Regions from separate parts of the Homo sapiens genome. Here region 1 is linked to region 2. The links come from fine-mapping of genetic effects on gene expression. A gene starts in region 2. The other region holds a variant in brackets. All regions are shown on one strand. Distances are between the middles of the regions.

Region 1 (8,335 bases), 28 kb before region 2:
GAGGTGCATCATGGGCGAGTCTCCTGCAGTGTAGGGCTACTTTGTCCTGGCAGGAATGAACTCTGCTGGCCTTTCATTTGGTGGAGGAGCCGGAAAGTAAGTCTTTCTCACTCAAAGTCAGCTGTGAACATAAGTCAACTTGCTGGGTCTCTTCCCTTCTAGAATTACTTGTTATTAACATGGCGTGTGGTATATTTAATCTAGTATGTTAAGACTAATAAGAAGATACATGTAATTTTGGAGTTGTCCCCTTCTAAGTATGAGAGGCTCCCCATGTTCCAGAAATGTCATCAGGCAAAATGTTTTTGCAACTCATCTTTTGGAGTTAGCCACAGATCCTGTGGGATATTCTTTTATATTTTTTCAATTGTAACAAATATTGGTCATTTGAGTGTGTATTTGAGTTTGGTAGCCAAGTGTGTTGATTGAGGTAGGTATTTGAACTAGGTAATACACGTTTTGTTTGTTTTTTTAGACAGTCTTGCTCTGTCACCCAGGCTGGAATGCAGTGACATGATCTCAGCTCACTGTAACCTCCACCTCCTGGGTTCAGGCTGTTCTCCTACCTCAGCCTCCCGAGTAGCTGGGATTAGAGGCGTGTGCCAGCACACCTGGCTAATTTTTCTATTTTTAGTAGAGACAGGGTTTCACCATGTTAGCCAGGCTGGTCTTGAACTCCTGACTTCAAGTGATCCACCCACCTTGGCCTCCCAAAGTGCTAGGATTACAGGCATGAGCCACCGTGCCCGGCCACAAGTTTTTGTTTAAAAATTAGACACTAGGCCGGGCGCGGTGGCTCACGCTTGTAATCCCAGCACTTTGGGAGGCCTAGGTGGGCGGATCACAAGGTCACGAGATCGAGACCACTCTGGCTAACACAGTGAAACCGCGTCTCTACTAAAAATACAAGAACAAAATTAGCCGGCCGTTGTGGCGGGCGCCTGTGGTCCCAGCTACTTGGGAGGTTGAGACAGGAGAATGGCGTGAACCCGGGAGGCAGAGGTTGCAGTGAGCCGAGATTGCGCCACTGCACTCCAGCCTGGGCGACAGAGCGAGACTCTATCTCAATAAAAATAATAATAATAAAATAAAATAAGACACTAATGAACATTAAATAAGCCAGTCACAAAAGGACAAATACTGTGTGGTTCCACTTATATGAAGTTGCTAGAGTTGTCAGATCATAGAGACAGAAAGTACAATGGTGTTTGCCAGAGGCGGGGGAGGGGAGCTATTCTTGAATGAGCACAGAGTTCCACAAATGCAAGAGGAAAAGAGTTCTAGGATGGATGGTAGTGAAGGTTACACCGCAGTGTGAATGTACCCACTGCCACTGAACTGAATACTTACAAATGGGTAAGATGGTAGCCACGATGAAAAGCTTATTTTAAATTTATGAGACCAGTTCTCTTGAGTGATTTGTAGAATGGCTCTAAAAACAATTACAGAAGAGGAGTTACAAAAATGTTTGGAGCAAAGGAGATGGGGTCACATAACTGTATAATCTTGAGGTGAGAGAAAAAAACCCATTGGATATTTAGAGTATATTTATATGTGTTTTAGTCTTATTTCTTCATAGATGAGGCTTATAACTTTTTTTGAAACAAGATCTTACTCTCACCCAGGCTGGAGTGCAGTGGCACCATCATAGCTCACTGCAGCCGCAAGTTCCTGGGCTCAAGGGATCATCCCGCATCAGACTCCAGAAGAGTTAGAACTAACTACAGGCATGTGCCACCATACCCAGCTCTTTTTTTTTTTTTTTTTTTGAAACGAAGTTTTGCTCTTGTTGCCCAGGCTGGAGTGCAATGGCACAATCTCGGCTCACCGCAACCTCTGCCTCCCGGGTTCAAGTGATTCTCCTGCCTCAGCCTCCCGAGTAGCTGGGATTACAGGCATGTGCCACCACGCCGGCTAATTTTTTTTTTTGTTGTTGTTTGTTTGTTTTTGTTTTTTGAGATGGAGTTTCGCTCTTGTTGCCCTGGCTGGAGTGCAATGGCGTGATCTAGGCTTACTGCAACCTCTGCCTCCCAGGTTCAAGCAGTTCTCCTTCCTCAGCCTCCGTAGTAGCTGGGATTACAGGCGTGTGCCACCACACTGGCTAATTTTGTATTTTTAATAGAGACAGGGTTTCTCCACATTGGTCAGGCTTGTTTCGAACTCCTGACCTCAGGTGATCCGTATGCCTCAGCCTCCCAAAGTGCTGGGATTACAGGTGTGAGCCACCTGGCTCACTTTGAAACTTTTCTTTTTTTGGTAGAGACGGGGTCTTACTTTGTTGTCCAGGCTGGTCTCAAACTCCTGACTTCAAGCAATCCCCTGCCTCAGCCTCCCAAAGTTCTGGGATTACAGGCATCAGCCAATGTGTCTGGCTGGCTTCTATGTTAAATGCCTCCTAGGGAATCTTATCATCTGGGGTAAAATCCTCATAGTAGTCTTTTGAGAGCAGTACACAGACCCATGTTCGTTGCTTCCAGAAAAGTTAAGGAAAGTGCCCAAAACTATTCAGCTGGTCTATGGCAATTTAGGATCTTTTGATTCTGTTAGTTCTCGATTTGTAGAATATTAATTTTCTCAAATCTCACACCTGAGCCCCAACAAGTGCCCTCTGTCTATATAGGTACCTTGCCGAATGGATGGTACATGGTTATCCCTCAGAAAACGTTTGGGAATTGGACCTGAAACGTTTTGGAGCCCTCCAGAGCAGCCGCACCTTTCTGCGCCACCGGGTCATGGAAGTCATGCGTAAGTGAAGCTTTATCGCAGTTGCTCCTAGTTGCAGGTATCTTCTCGGTGGCCCGTGTTGTCATTCAGAAGGAGCAAAGTTTTCCTCAGTTCTTTAACAAGTGCTTTGAGTTGGACATTTGATTTGACTGTTTCAGGCCTGAGTTAAGGGGCTTTATGCTCCTCATGATATATATGTAACATTTTCTTTAGTGCATCGGACCTTTTTTCCTTCTGGGAACAAGAAAGTAGAATAGGAGTTACAGTTGGTACATAGCAGCTTCATAAATATTCTAAGCAATGCCTTCTTCCCGGTCTGCCTTGAGAGACCGTATGTCGAAGTGCGTGCTTTCTGCAGTCTGCCTTGAGAGACCCTGTGTCGAAGTGAATGCTTTCTCACTCCCACTTAGTTTTTGAGAAAATGCTTTCTCACTCCCCACTTAGTTTTTTCTTTCCAAGTCAGAGAATTTGCCAAGTTATTCTCAGAGCTTCAGGCTTCCGTGAGTGACTTTCACCATTAATCCACCCTACAGCAGCAAGATTGGGAGCCACTTCCCATATAAATACAAAACATACATTCCTGCTCTCACTCCCGTGTTCTCGCCCTGCTTCAACTTTGAAGGACTGGCCACTTCATCTTAATTTGTTATTCTACCTTGATCTCTGATTTATTTTCTAGGAAGCCCTTAGAAAGCTTTTGTATCAGGAATTGAACCAAACCACGTGGGTTCAAGTTGTAATTTCATTTTCCTGTACTGAGGAGCTGTTCTCAGACTTTGCCAAATGGTATCTAAATATTTTGGGCATACTTATGCTCAGGACTAAGTTTCTGTGTTGGCTCTGACCACCATTCTTGGTTACAAGTAAACTGTTAGTTTGGTAGTTGAACAACATTGTTGGTGAGGACTCTGGATGGCCTTTAATGCCTGAGTGCTCACTTTTGGCCTGGGAAGAGGATGTACATCCATGGAGATGAAGGACCTAACAGCAATATGTTTAACTGCTAAGGTTCTTTAATTTTAGCAAATATTTTGGTTAAAATGTTGAACTTGGCTGGGTGTGCTGGCTCATGTCTGTAATCCCAGCACTTTGGGACGCTGAGGGAGGTAGGTCACTTGAGGTCAGGAGTTTGAGACCAGCCTAGGCAACGTAGCGAAACCCTGTCTCTACTAAAACCAAAACCAAAAAATTAGCCATGCCTTAGTGGCACACACCTGAAGTCCCAGCTACTTGGGAGGCTGAGGTAGGCGAATCACCTGAGCTGGGGAAGTTGAGGCTGCAGTGAGCCATGATGGTGCCACTGTGTACTCCAGCCTGGGCAGTGGGACTGAGACCCTGTCTCAAAAAAATAAAATAAAAAAATCAAAGTTTTTTGTTTTAAAGTTGAACTATTATAAGCCTAAATTTCCCCACCCATAGTTACTTTGGAACCTGTACAAATCATAATTGAGCTTGAGCTTCTGCTTGGTGATATGACACTTTTGGTAGCCAATTCTCATGAAATAGAAGTGGCAGGCACATAGAAAATGGGGAAGGCGCCAGGCGCAGTGGCTCAAGCCTGTAATCCCAGCATGTTGGGAGGCTGAGGCAGGCGGATCACTTGAGGTCAGGAGGTCTGGCCTGACCAACATGGCGAAACCCTGTCTCTACTAAAAATACAAAAATTTAGCCACGTGGTGGTATGTGCCTGTGATCCCAGCTCCTTGGCAGGCTGAGGCAGGACAATCACTTGAACCCGGGAGACGGAGGTTGCAGTGAGCCAAGATCGCACCACTGCGCTCTAGCCTGGGTGATAGAGAGGGATTCCATCTCAACAAAAAATAAAAAAAAAAAATAGAAAAGAAAATGGGGAAGGGGAAGATAGAACCTAAAGTACCAGGAGATGGAGAGATTGTCACCATGCAGAGAACCCCACCTGGCTTCCTTCTCCTGTCTCCCAACCTCCCCAAGCCTTGATGTGCCTTTTGTTTGGGACGGTGTGAGATCAGGTCTTCTCTTTGCAAGGGACCACAGATCCCACTCTTCTGGCTTTTTTTACTTATTGCTGTTGAAGATTAGACATTAAGGGAAATGAAATTTTTTTTTTTTTCCGAGATAGTCTTGCTCTATTGCCCAGGCTGGAGTGCCGTGGCGTGATTTCGGCTCACTGCAACCTCTGCCTCCTGGGTTCAAGCAATTCTCCTGCCTCAGCCTCCCGTGTAGCTGGGATTACAGGTGCCTGCCACCATGCCTGGCTAATTTATGTATTTTTAGTAGAGAC[A/G]GGGTTTCACCACATTGGTCAGGCTGATCTCGAACTCCTGACCTCGTGATCCGCCCACCTTGACCTCTCAAAGTGCTGGGTTTACAGACGTGAGCCACCACACCCAGCCTAAGAGAAATGAATTCTGACCCTAGCTTTGTTGTGTGAATAATGTCATTGGTACAATACAATGTAACTTCTCAGATTTCAGAGCCACCTAATCAAGCTACAATATGTACCCTTTCACTTCAGAAGTGAGTTAATTATCAGGGAGGAAATGTCTGTAACAGGTCTGAGATCCTAACACAGGCACAATGAAGAATCGAATGCCATTTTTTCACATTTTGTTACCACCTGTGTCCCACTTAGTAACCTTGTTCTCTGCTATGAAGCTTAGTAAGGTTTAGGACCCTGACCTTTCTGCCATCATTTCTACCTACTAATGTGGAATGCTGAATGTGAATACAGGCCGAGTCATGCCGTGACACGTAGCTCCAGGGAGGGACGATAGCAGCTTGGCAGGATTGTCTTTCCTTCTGGAGCATGCCTGATACACTGGGTAATTTTGAAAATTAGACTACATTAGCCTGGAAATTGGGCCGAGCAGAGTGGCTCACGCCTGTAATCCCAGCACTTCGGGAGGCCGGGGCGGGCAGATCACCTGAGGTCAGGAGTTTGAGACCAGCCTGACCAACATGGAGAAACCCTGTCTCTACTAAAAATACAAAAATCAGTGTGGCACGGTGGCACGTGCCTGTAATCCCAGCTACTCGGGAAGCTGAGGCAGGAGAATCGCTTAAACCCAGGAGGCGGAGGTTGCAGTAAGCCAAGATTGTGCCACTGCACTCCAGCCTGGACAACAAGAGCAAAACTCCGTCTTAAAAAAAAAAAAAAACAAACTACGTTAGCCTGGAAAGCTCTTTTGAATAGAAACAACTCCAGAGTCTAGTGGATATTGGCTACTCAGGTCTAGAATCTGTGTCTTGGGCTTTGATAGACTACTCGTGTCTTTTCTAGCTTTGATGTATGATCTGAAGGTTCCCCACTGGGACTTCCAGACCGGTAGGCAGTTACGCACCTCTCCTCTCTACGACCGGCTGGATGCACAGGGAGCCAGGTGGATGGAGAAACATGGATTTGAGAGGCCAAAGTACTTTGTTCCCCCTGACAAGGGTAAGAAGTCACATTCTCATTTTTGCTCCTTTTTTTTTTTGTCCTGGGAATTAATAAAACGTATTTTCAAATGCATAGGCTAGAATGTGTTCACAGAAGAAAAAGAACCACGTGGACTACACTAAACTCTACAGGGCCTTGTGATTTTTCCATTCCGTAGACCTCCTGGCATTGGAGCAGAGCAAGACTTTCTATAAGCCAGATTGGTTTGACATCGTGGAGTCTGAAGTCAAGTGCTGTAAGGAAGCTGTGTGTGTCATTGACATGTCCTCTTTCACAGAGTTTGAGATAACAGTAAGTATTTGGGAACCAAAGTAATAGATTAGGAAACTTTGCATATTTATTGAATGCCTTTTGTTTTTCATCTTCAAAACTGATTCCTGACTGGGTGCAGTGGGTCATGCCTGTATTCCCAGCACTTTGGGAGGCCAAGGGGGGCGTGGATCACCTGAAGTCAGGAGTTCCAGACCAGCCTGGCCAAGATGGTAAAACCCCGTTTCTACTAAAAATACAAAAATTAAGGCCAGGAGTGGTGGCTCATGCCTGTAATCCCAGCAGTTTGGGAGGCCGAGACGGGTAGATCACCTGAGATCAGGAGTTCAAGACCAGCCTGGCCAACATGGCGAAACCATCTCTACCAAAAATACAAAAAATTAACCAGGCATGGTGGCGGGCACTTGTAATCCCAGCTACTCGGGAGGCAGGAGAATCGCATGAACTCATGAGGTGGAGGTTGCAGTGAGCTGAGATTGCGCCACTGCACTCAGCCTGGGCAACAGAGTGAGACTCCATCTCAAAAAAAAAACAAAAACAAAAACAAAACACTGATTTCTTAAGAATTCTGGTATATTTTAGTGTTTCATCTGTATTGTGACATTTTTCTGAAATTTTAGCTCCTTGTTTCGGGTTTTTAATTTGCTAGAGAGGCCTGTTTATCATAAGAATCAATAGCTAGCATTCCCTGGAGCTTCTTGCAGTGGAGTAGGTCTGCAAGTGTTGTCACATGGGAATTGGCTGATTGAATTTTCTCAATGAGGTTCATTGCTGGTGGGGCCATGTGGCGCAGCCAGGTGCTCTCACTCTCACTCTCTCTGTTTCATTCCCTAACCCTGCAGACCACTGGGGATCAGGCATTAGAAGTTCTACAGTACCTCTTCTCCAATGACCTGGATGTGCCTGTGGGCCACATTGTGCATACTGGCATGCTCAACGAGGGTGGAGGGTATGAAAATGACTGCAGCATAGCACGACTGAACAAGCGCAGGTGAGATGAGCTGCCGTCCCGCTCTGCTTCCTCCAACATGTTGATTCCTTAGGGGTACTGTAGCAGAGGCTCTCAGGCGCTTCTCCACGAACCATAAATCCCAGGGACTAAGAATCATTACATGAAATCAAAGCCAGTTTATTAGCAGTCCTAAACAAAAGAAATCACCAGGAGGAAAAGAAAAAAAAGCCCACCAGATTATGTACCCTACTGGGAGAAGATGCCTTGTCTTTTTTTTTTTTTTTTTTTTTTTTTCTGAGACAGGGTCTCACTTTGTTACCCAGGCTGGAGTGCAGTGATGCAATCATGGATCCCTGCAGCCTCGACCTCCTGGGCTCAAGTGATCCTCCCACCTCAGCTTTCCAGGTAGCTGGGACCACAGGTACACGCCACCACACCCAGCCAGTTTTTGTATATTTTGTAGAGATAGGGTTTTGTCACATTGCCCAGGCTGATCTTGAACACCTGAGCTCAAGCAATCTGCCCACCTTGGCCTCCAAAGTGCTGGGATTACAGGCGTGAGCCACTGTGCCCAGCCGATGTCTTAACGTTAGTAAATCTGTATAATTTCTTGGCATTAACAGGAAGCCAGAATTTTGTTTTGTTGTTAGGTGGTGTATCCTAGAATGGTGCTACTGGCCTTCTGTGAAAGCTAAGAAATCATTTCCTAGTATTTGCCTCATTGCTTTGAAACCAAATAAGATTTGATTGCTTCCTGATCCTTTTGCTGCTACCTGGTTTTGATTATTTTGGGGTCTCACTTTTCAGTTTCTTCATGATCTCTCCAACCGACCAGCAGGTCCACTGTTGGGCCTGGCTTAAGAAACACATGCCGAAAGACAGCAACCTGCTCCTGGAGGACGTCACCTGGAAGTACACAGGTACGGGGGTTCGGGCTCTGCCACGTCGAAAAGGCCAGCAGATGCAGATGTGTC
Region 2 (8,335 bases):
CTGACAAATCTATGAAGCAGGTGGTTTTATTATTCCCATTTTGCAGATGAGAAAATGGAGATAGAGATTTGTCTTTTTCACTCTGTCGCCCAGGCTGGTGTGCTATAGTGCGATCTCAGCTCACTGCAACCTCTGCCTCCTGGGTTCAAGCAATTCTCCTGCCTCAGCCTTCTGAGTAGCTGGGATTACAAGCATGCATCCTGGCTAACTTTTTGTATTTTTAGTAGAGATGGGGTTTCACCATGTTGGCCAGTCTGGTCTCCAACTCCTAACCTCAGGTGATCCCCCTGCCTCGGCCTCCCCAAGTGCTAGGATTACAGGTGTGAGCCACCGCGTCCGGCCAAATAGCCTGAACACCTACTAGTTTATACATCTTGGATTCCAAGTCAAGCCATCTGACTTGAGTCCATGCTTTAAGCTGCTAAAATATACTGTGGTTTCAGAAATGGTAACCTCATGAACTGTGAGTAGGAGCATAAAGGACTGCAGCCACTCTAGTGTGCAATCTGGCTGTACTTAGAGACATGAACTATGCCTATATTCTATGTTCCTGCAAACTCCTGGACATGGACTCCACAGAAACTTGCTCAGGTCCTTATGAGGACATGTGGTAGCTTTGTTTGTGGCGGTGGAGAGCTGGAAGTAACCCAAGTGTCCAGCACTAGGAGGTAGGTAACTAAACCATGGCAGATGACTACAGTGGATCCCCACCTTAGTGGACTAGCAGCGTAGGCAGAGTTACGTCATGACGACAAACAGCCCTGAAATCTCAATGGCTGAACCCAAGTTTTATTCCAGCTAACATCAAATTGAATGCAAGGCAAGTGTTTCTCTAGGACATCTCTGCTCTCTAAAGGGACTCAGCAGTCAGGCTGCACCCTGTGTGACTTGCCATCTCAACATGTCCCTCCTCTATCGCCCAGGCGAGAGAGACAGGAGAGGGTTTTCACTGTCTCAGTCTCACTCTCTCATCAGGCTGGAGTGCAGTGGCCCGATCTCGGCTCACTGCATCCTCTAACTCCCTGGTTCAAGCAATTCTCCTGCCTCAGCCTCCCAAGGAGCTGGGATTCCAGGCATGCACCACCACTCCCAGCTAATTTTTGTATTTTTAGTAGAGACGGGGTTTCACCATGTTGGCCAGGCTGGTCTCTCTCCTGACCTTGTGATCCACCCACCCTTGCCTCCCAGAGTGCTGGGATTACAGGCGTGAGGCACTGCGCCCGGCCTGCTTATATTTTTTCATTGTCCAGAACTCATCTCGTGGCCTTCTCTGGAGCAAAGGGGTGGCAAGTGTAGTCTGCAGTATGTCCAGGAAAGAGGAATGTGGAACAGGATTTGGGAACACATAGTACTGTTGCTGCCACCAGCAGTTACAAGCTATGAACTGAATGAATCTATACATACAGCCATGAAGACATGTCTTTAAAACATAGTTTTGAGTTTTAAAAAAAGGTAGGAAAGAATGAGATTAAAGGGAAACTTATAGAAATTAAAACACATGCACATAGAACATTATGCTGCATGGGCTGGGTACGGTGGCTCACGCCTGTAATCCCAGCACTTTGGGAGGCTGAGGTGGGCGGATCACCTGAGGTCAGGAGTTCAAGGACATTATGCTGCATGTTCTTCGCGGATCCATCCATATCTAAGGACATTTATTAAACACATTGAAGTGGCTATAGCTTATGTGTGTGGGAAGGAAGGGTGGTTAGAATGATAGAGGAAATCAGGTAAAAAAAATCAAAGGACACGTTTGATGATGGTGATGATGATGATGGCAGTCATGAACTGAGGAGTGAGATTCATGCCACTCTACATTTGAGGTTCTTTCTCCAGCCATGTAACTCTGGCAATGGAGTAGAATAGGGAGGAGGGGGAAGGTGAGAACGTAGGTAGAAAGAGCTGTTGGGCAACTGTAGCAATAAAACAGAAAAGAGATGAATGTTTGCACATAGGCAGGGGCAGCAGGAATGCAGAAGGGCAGGTGTCAGAGAGCGTCCACGTGGTAGGACCCACAGGACCAGGTGGCTGAATGCAGAGGCTGAGGCTGAGCAGGGCGGCCAGTATGGCTCCTGTGTTCTGATGGCGTGTAGTGGCGTGACCAGCCAGGGTCTGGAAGAAAGAGGAATGAGTATTGGAATCAGAGGCATCAGATAACGATGTGGGATTCTTTAAGATATCAGTTGAGTCAAATGAGTGTCTAGAGAAAATGGAGCCAAAGGAGCTCAGGAGGGTCCAAGAAGCAGTTAAGAGTACCATGATAGAAGTGCCAGGGATCAAGTCAGGGAGGTAAGGTAATATGGTTTCGTTGTGTCCCCATCCAAATCTCATCTTGAACTGTAGCTCCTGCAATTCCTACATGTCACTGGAGGGACCCAGTGGGAGGCAATTGAATCATGGGGGTGAGTCTTTTCCATGCTGTTCTCATAATAGTGAATAAGTTTCACCAGATCTGATGGTTTTATAAAGAAGAGTTCCCAAGCACAAGTTCTCTCTTGTCTTCCGCCATGTAAGACGTGCCTTCTGCCTTCTGCCTTCTGCCATGATTGTGAGGCCTCCCCAGGCACTTAAACTGTGAGTCCATTAATCCTCTTTTTCTTTATAAATTACCCAGTCTTGGGTGTGTCTTTATCAGCAGTGTGAAAACGGACTAATACATAAGGGCTCAGAAGGGCCAACTGGATGGGCAAAGAAGCCATTGGTGACTTTAGTGAGAGCGACTTTAGTGGAATGGTGGGGGGGCAAAAGCCAGATTGCAGATGATTAAGGAAACAGTTGGAAGACAAGGAAGGCAACAGACATAGATTAGCCATTTGCTGAAGGTTAACTGGGAAAAGAAGGATGGAGGAAGGCTATACCGGGGGCTGCAGAGTGCAGATGTGCATGTGTAATATGGGAGGGAGCTGAGGGTTTATATGCTGAGGGGTAAAAGGTGGGATGGAGTCAGGATTGAAAATGAGGAAGAGAGGCCAGGTGCAGTAGCTCACGCCTGTAATCTCAGCACTTTGGGAGGCCGAGGCGGGCAGATGACAAGGTCAGGAGTTTGAGACCAGCCTGACCAACATGGTGAAACCCCATCTCTACTAAAAATACAAAAATTAGCCAGGTGTGGTGGCACACGCCTATAATCCTAGCTACTCAGGAGGCTGAGGTGGGAGAATCACTTGAACCTGGGAGGCGGAGGTTGCAGTGAGCCAAGATCATGCCATTGCACTCCAGTCTGGGTGACAGAGCGAGACTCCGTCTCAAAAAAAAAGAAAAAAAAAAAGAAAATGAGGAAGAGGCCAGACACGGGGGCTGACACCTGTAATCTCAGCACTTTGGGAGGCCGAGGCAGGCAGATCACTTGAAGTCAGGAGTTTGAGACCAGCCTGGCTAACATGGTGAAACCTTGTCTCTACTAAAAATACAAAAATTAGCTGGGCATGGTGGCAGGCACCTATAATCCCAGCTACTCGAGAGGCTGAGGCAGGAGAATCGCTTGAACCTAGGAGGCAAAGGTTTTAGTGAGCCGAGATCACGCCACTGCACTCCAGCCTGGGTGACAGAGCAAGACTCGGTCTAAAAAAAAAAAAAAAATGAAAACAAAGAAAATGAAGAAGATAGGGGCTCTACATGAACCAAGGATCCTAGCTGGTTATTTTGATTAAAAGATGACTCAAATGATGTTAACACTGATCAGACTTTAGCACGAGAGCTGCAGAGAAGGAAGACACTATGATGAGAATATATTTGGGGTTTTGAGCTGGGAAAAGACTTCTTAAATATGATCCAGAAAGTACTGGCCATAAGGAAAAAATGTTAACAGATTTGTCTGCACCAAAATCTACCAAGAGAGTCCTTTCAACTAGAACTGCCGTCACCACAATGATGAACATGGGGAAAGAGGAGAGGTACCTGCTGTATATTCTCAGGCCTTTTAGAACACATGGAGTTGTTCCTCTGGCCACATCCACACGAACCTACAAGAAAGGAGATGTTATAGACGTCAAGAGATGCCCCACGGATGTTACCAAGGCAAAAGGAATGCCCCACAGATGTTACCAAGGCAAAAGAGGAAGAGACTACATGTATCTAGTATGCTGTTGGCATGGTTGGAAACAAACAACAGCATGATTCTTGCCAAGAGAATTCATGTGTGTGTATGGAGCATACCAAGCACTCCAAGAGCTGGGAAGGCCTTCAGAAACACGTGAGGGAAAATGATCAAAAGAGAAGGAAACGGCCAGGCACGGTGGCTCACGCCTGTAATCCCAGCACTTTGGGAGGCTGAGGCGGGCAGATCACCTGAGGTCAGGAGTTTGAGACCAGCCTGGCCCACATGGTGAAACCCCGTCTCTACTAAAAATATAAAACTTAGCCGGGCATGGTGGCGCGTGCCTGTAGTCCCAGCTACTTGGGAGGCTAAGGCAGGAGAATCTCTAGAACCTGGGAGGCGAAGGTTGCAGTGAGCCAAGACTGCACCACTGCACTCCAGCTTGGGCGACGGAGGGAGACTCCATCTCAGAAAAAAAAAAAAAGAGAAGGAAGCCAGAGAGTACCTGGGTTCAACTGAAGTGCCAGCCTGCTCCAGCCAGAGAAGCACAATTTGTGAGAACAGGGAAAACGAACCCAAGCTGCTGGAACCCAATCCTCTTGAATTAATGGCTTCATAGGTATTAAAAAAAAAAAAAAAGGCCGAGCGTGGTGGCTCACACCTGTAATCCCAGCATTTTGGGAGGCCAAAGCAGGAGGATCGCTTGAGCCCAGGAGTTCAAGACCAGCCTGGGCAACATAGGGAGACTCATCTCTACGAAAAATAAATAAATAAATGATTTTAAAATGGCACAAAAAACAAACCAGACCCCTGGACTGTTAAAAAAAAAATTGATTGTTCTACATCAAAATAAATGTTCTCTAACTTTCATGTGGGCAGGAACCATATGGAGACCATCTTAAAAACACAGATCCCCAGAGATTGTAACACAGTAGGTCTGGGGTTGGGCCCAGAAACCTGAATTTTTATTATTTTTTTGAGACAGGGTCTCTGTCGCCCAGGCTGGAGTGCAGTGGTACAATCTCAGCTCACTGCAACCTCTGCCTCCCGGGTTCAGTAGATTCTCCTGGCCTCAGCCTCCCGAGTAGCTGGGACTACAGGTGTGCACCACCACACCCGGCAAAAGTTTGTACTTTTTGGTAGATACTGGCTTTCACTGTGTTGGCCAGGCTGGTTTTGAACTCCTGGCCTCAAGTGATCTGCCCGCCTTGGCCTCCCAGAGAGCTGGGATTACAGGCGTGAACCACCACACCTGGCCAGAAACATGAATTTTTAACAAGCATCATAGTGAATTCTTCTGTCATTGGTTCTATGTTTTGAATAACTGCTAGAGAACGGCCAGCTGAGGTCCTAGTAAGTGAGAACAAATCAGTCAACCAACCAATCAGCACCACCCCCTTCCGGAAAAGTCCCAAGCATTTGACAAAGATTTGTCACCTACAACTATCTGCCACTGTGTGAAGAGGGCTACTTTAAATGAACCCAAGTCTTGGTAAGTTTTCTTGAGAAAAACAGAAACAGGTACAAAATGAAAACAACTGGGGATTAAGTAACAGTCATGAAGGCAGTGATCATTTAAATAGGACTGGAATGGGTGGGCTTGGAGCCAGGTTGCACAGGTTTGCAAAAGCCAATTGTTAAATTTTCAGAAATTTTGTGAGCTGGAGGCTAAACAAAACCATTGTTAAAAATTAAATTGGGCCGGGCGCGGTGGCTCACGCCTGTAATCCCAGCACTTTGGGGGGCCGAGGCTGGCGGATCACGAGGTCAGGAGATCGAGACCATCCTGGCTAACACGGTGAAACCCCATCTCTACTAAAAATACAAAAAATTAGCCGGGCGAGGTGGCAGGCACCTGTAGTCCCAGCTACTCGGGAGGCTGAGGCAGGAGAATGGCGTGAACCCCAGGGGGTGGAGCCTGCAGTGAGCTGAGATCGCGCCACTGCACTCCAGCCTGGGCAACACAGTGAGACTCCATCTCAAAAAAAAAAAAAAAAATTAAATTGGATAAACTTACAATTAAATAGATTACATTAAGAAAAGATTTTTAAAACTCTCAACACATTGCATTCTAATTTCTTTTCTTTTTCTTTTTCTTTTTTTTTTGACATGGAGTCCTGCTCTGTTGCCCAGGCTGGAGTGCAGTGGCATGATCTCGGCTCACTGCACCCTCTGCCTCCTGGGTTCAAGCAATTCTCCTGCCTCAGCCTCCGAAGTAGCTGGGATTACAGGCGCCCACCACCTCGCCCGGCTAATTTTTTGTATTTTTAGTAGAGATAGAGTTTCCCCATGTTGGCCAGGCTGGTCTCAAACTCCTGACCTTAGGTGATCTGCCCGCCTTGGCCTCCCAAGGCCAGGTGTGAGCCATCGCACCCGGCCCTAATTTCTTTACTACATTTTACTATCAGGTGTGCTCCTCAGGTTATTTTTGTCTATCTTATCTGTAAGGTGGAAATACTATGTAGCACTGTGCTCCTGCGCCTCTCCTTCCAACTCAGGTTGTTGGCTTGAAACCAGGCACCGTGGAAGTATTTATACCAGTGAAATTGGGAAAGGCTTACAAATCAATGCTCCTCATCCCTTTTTTGGAGAACTGATTGTTACATGTTTACCAGAACACCACTGACCATGGTCCTTAAAGTAATTAGGCTGCACACGGTGGCTCATGCCTGTAATCCCAGCACTTTGGAAGGCCGAGGCAGGAGGATTGCTTGAGCCCAGGAGTTCAAGACCAGCCTGGGCAACAAGGTGAGACCTGTCTCTATAAAAAAGTTAAAAATTACCTGGGCGTGGTGGCTCGTGCCTGCCCTCTCAGCTACTCAGGAGGCTGAGGCAGGAGGATCGCTTGAGCCCAGGACGTTGAGGCTGCAGTGAGCTGTGATCGCATCGCTGCACTCCAGTGTGAGAGACAGAGCAAGACCCAGTCTCGAGGAAAAAAAAAAAATTAGAAGAGTAATACCAGCAGTAAGGGAAATCGAAGCACATACTATCTGCTTGTATTAATGTATTCATCCCCCAGCAGCAGTGTGCAAGAGGACAGTAAGGGTGGAGGTGTGGATGCTTAACCCAGTCTTTTTGCACCCATAGCCTCTTCAAGTTCCTTCAAAATTTTGCCTGGGTGGCTTCAGCTGAAAGCAGAAATGGCAGGAAGTAATTGGGGGAGATTCCCAAATCTATGCCCAACTGGGAATCAAATTTTTCTCTTGCCAAGAGATGAGCTGAGGTGAGTGAATGACGCCATCTAGTGTCGAAGAACAGGTTGGCTCCAAAGAGCAATGATTAGCAAAAGATTTCTCTTGATTTGGGCCCTAGAAACACGACTTCCATAATTTCTTCTTCCTTTCTTTTCACATATTTTCTTTCCTCACTTCCATGTCTATACTGAGTCAATTCTTAATTATTCCCCCAATAAAAACAGCCTTTACTTTTTTTTTTTTGAGATGGAGTCTTGCTCTGTTACCCAGGCTGGAGTGCAGTGGCACGATCTCCAGCTCAGTGCAACCTCCGCCTCCCGGGTTCAAGCAATTCTCCTGCCTCAGCCTCCCGAGTAGCTGGGATTACAGGCTCCCATCACCATGCCCAGCTAATTGTTGTATTTTTAGTAGAGATGGTGTTTCTCCATATTGGCCAGGCTGGTCTCGAACTCCTAACCGTGTGATCCGCCCGCCTCGGCCTCCCAATTACAGGTGTGAGCCACTGTGCCTGGCCAAAAAACAGGCTTTAGTTTTTAAAAAAAGATCTCAATTTTGCACTGCTACCAGGCAAAAATCGGTAATGCCAAGAGTTGAATGGCATAGGAATGTACACAGGTATTATGTGTAATAATTTGCAGTACATTTGCTTAGGGAAGTTGTAAACATTTTCTCTTGTGGGCCATATAAATCAAATGTTTCTCTGCCTTCCCACATGTCCTGTATCCACCGCATTTTCCCAGACAGGGCAGATGAAAGTGGTTTTGTTAGCATGTTATAGTCTAACAAACAATCCTAACTCATTCTCAAGTTTTATTCTGCTTAATGGAAAATGGTAGAAGAAAAAGCCTTTGCATAACTACCCAGTGAATGGGAGATTTCATTCTTTTCCATAAGTTGAGGGCTATTTCCTGTTTTCTTTTTCATTTTTTTTTGAGAAAACTAACCCTTCATTGAGATATTTTTAAGTCGAATATCTAGTATAAAAAGTTTGCATTGTTTCAGCTTGTTTTCATTTAAACCTGTGGTTGTCTTTCATCTGCTTCTGGCAATTTTTTTTTTTTTTTTTTTTGAGACAGAGTCTCGCTCTGTTGCCCAGGCTGGAGTG

Alleles and levels. Alleles are on the strand shown, and positions count from the first base shown. SD is a standard deviation of normalised expression in the study named.
For the expression in prefrontal cortex of the gene that starts at base 3,921 in region 2, G is the low allele of the variant in region 1 and A is the other (moderate effect, 0.60 SD a copy in BrainSeq).

The links. PIP is the estimated chance that this variant, and not a neighbour inherited with it, causes the effect.
Region 1: its variant is fine-mapped to the expression of PCHILR in prefrontal cortex (BrainSeq, PIP 0.95).

What each region holds. Positions count from the first base shown.
Region 1 is chr16:74,336,540-74,344,874 of GRCh38, reverse strand. It overlaps the pseudogene PDPR2P. Among named protein-coding and RNA genes, the nearest start is that of PCHILR, 27 kb to the right of the region's middle. The variant A/G (reference allele first, on the strand shown) is at 4,985.
Region 2 is chr16:74,308,923-74,317,257 of GRCh38, reverse strand. It overlaps PCHILR (prostate cancer associated HIP1 interacting lncRNA), which reads right to left and starts at 3,921. Exons shown (of 2, transcript NR_186416.1): 1 at 3,898-3,921; 2 at 1,618-2,112. It also overlaps the pseudogene RPL21P118.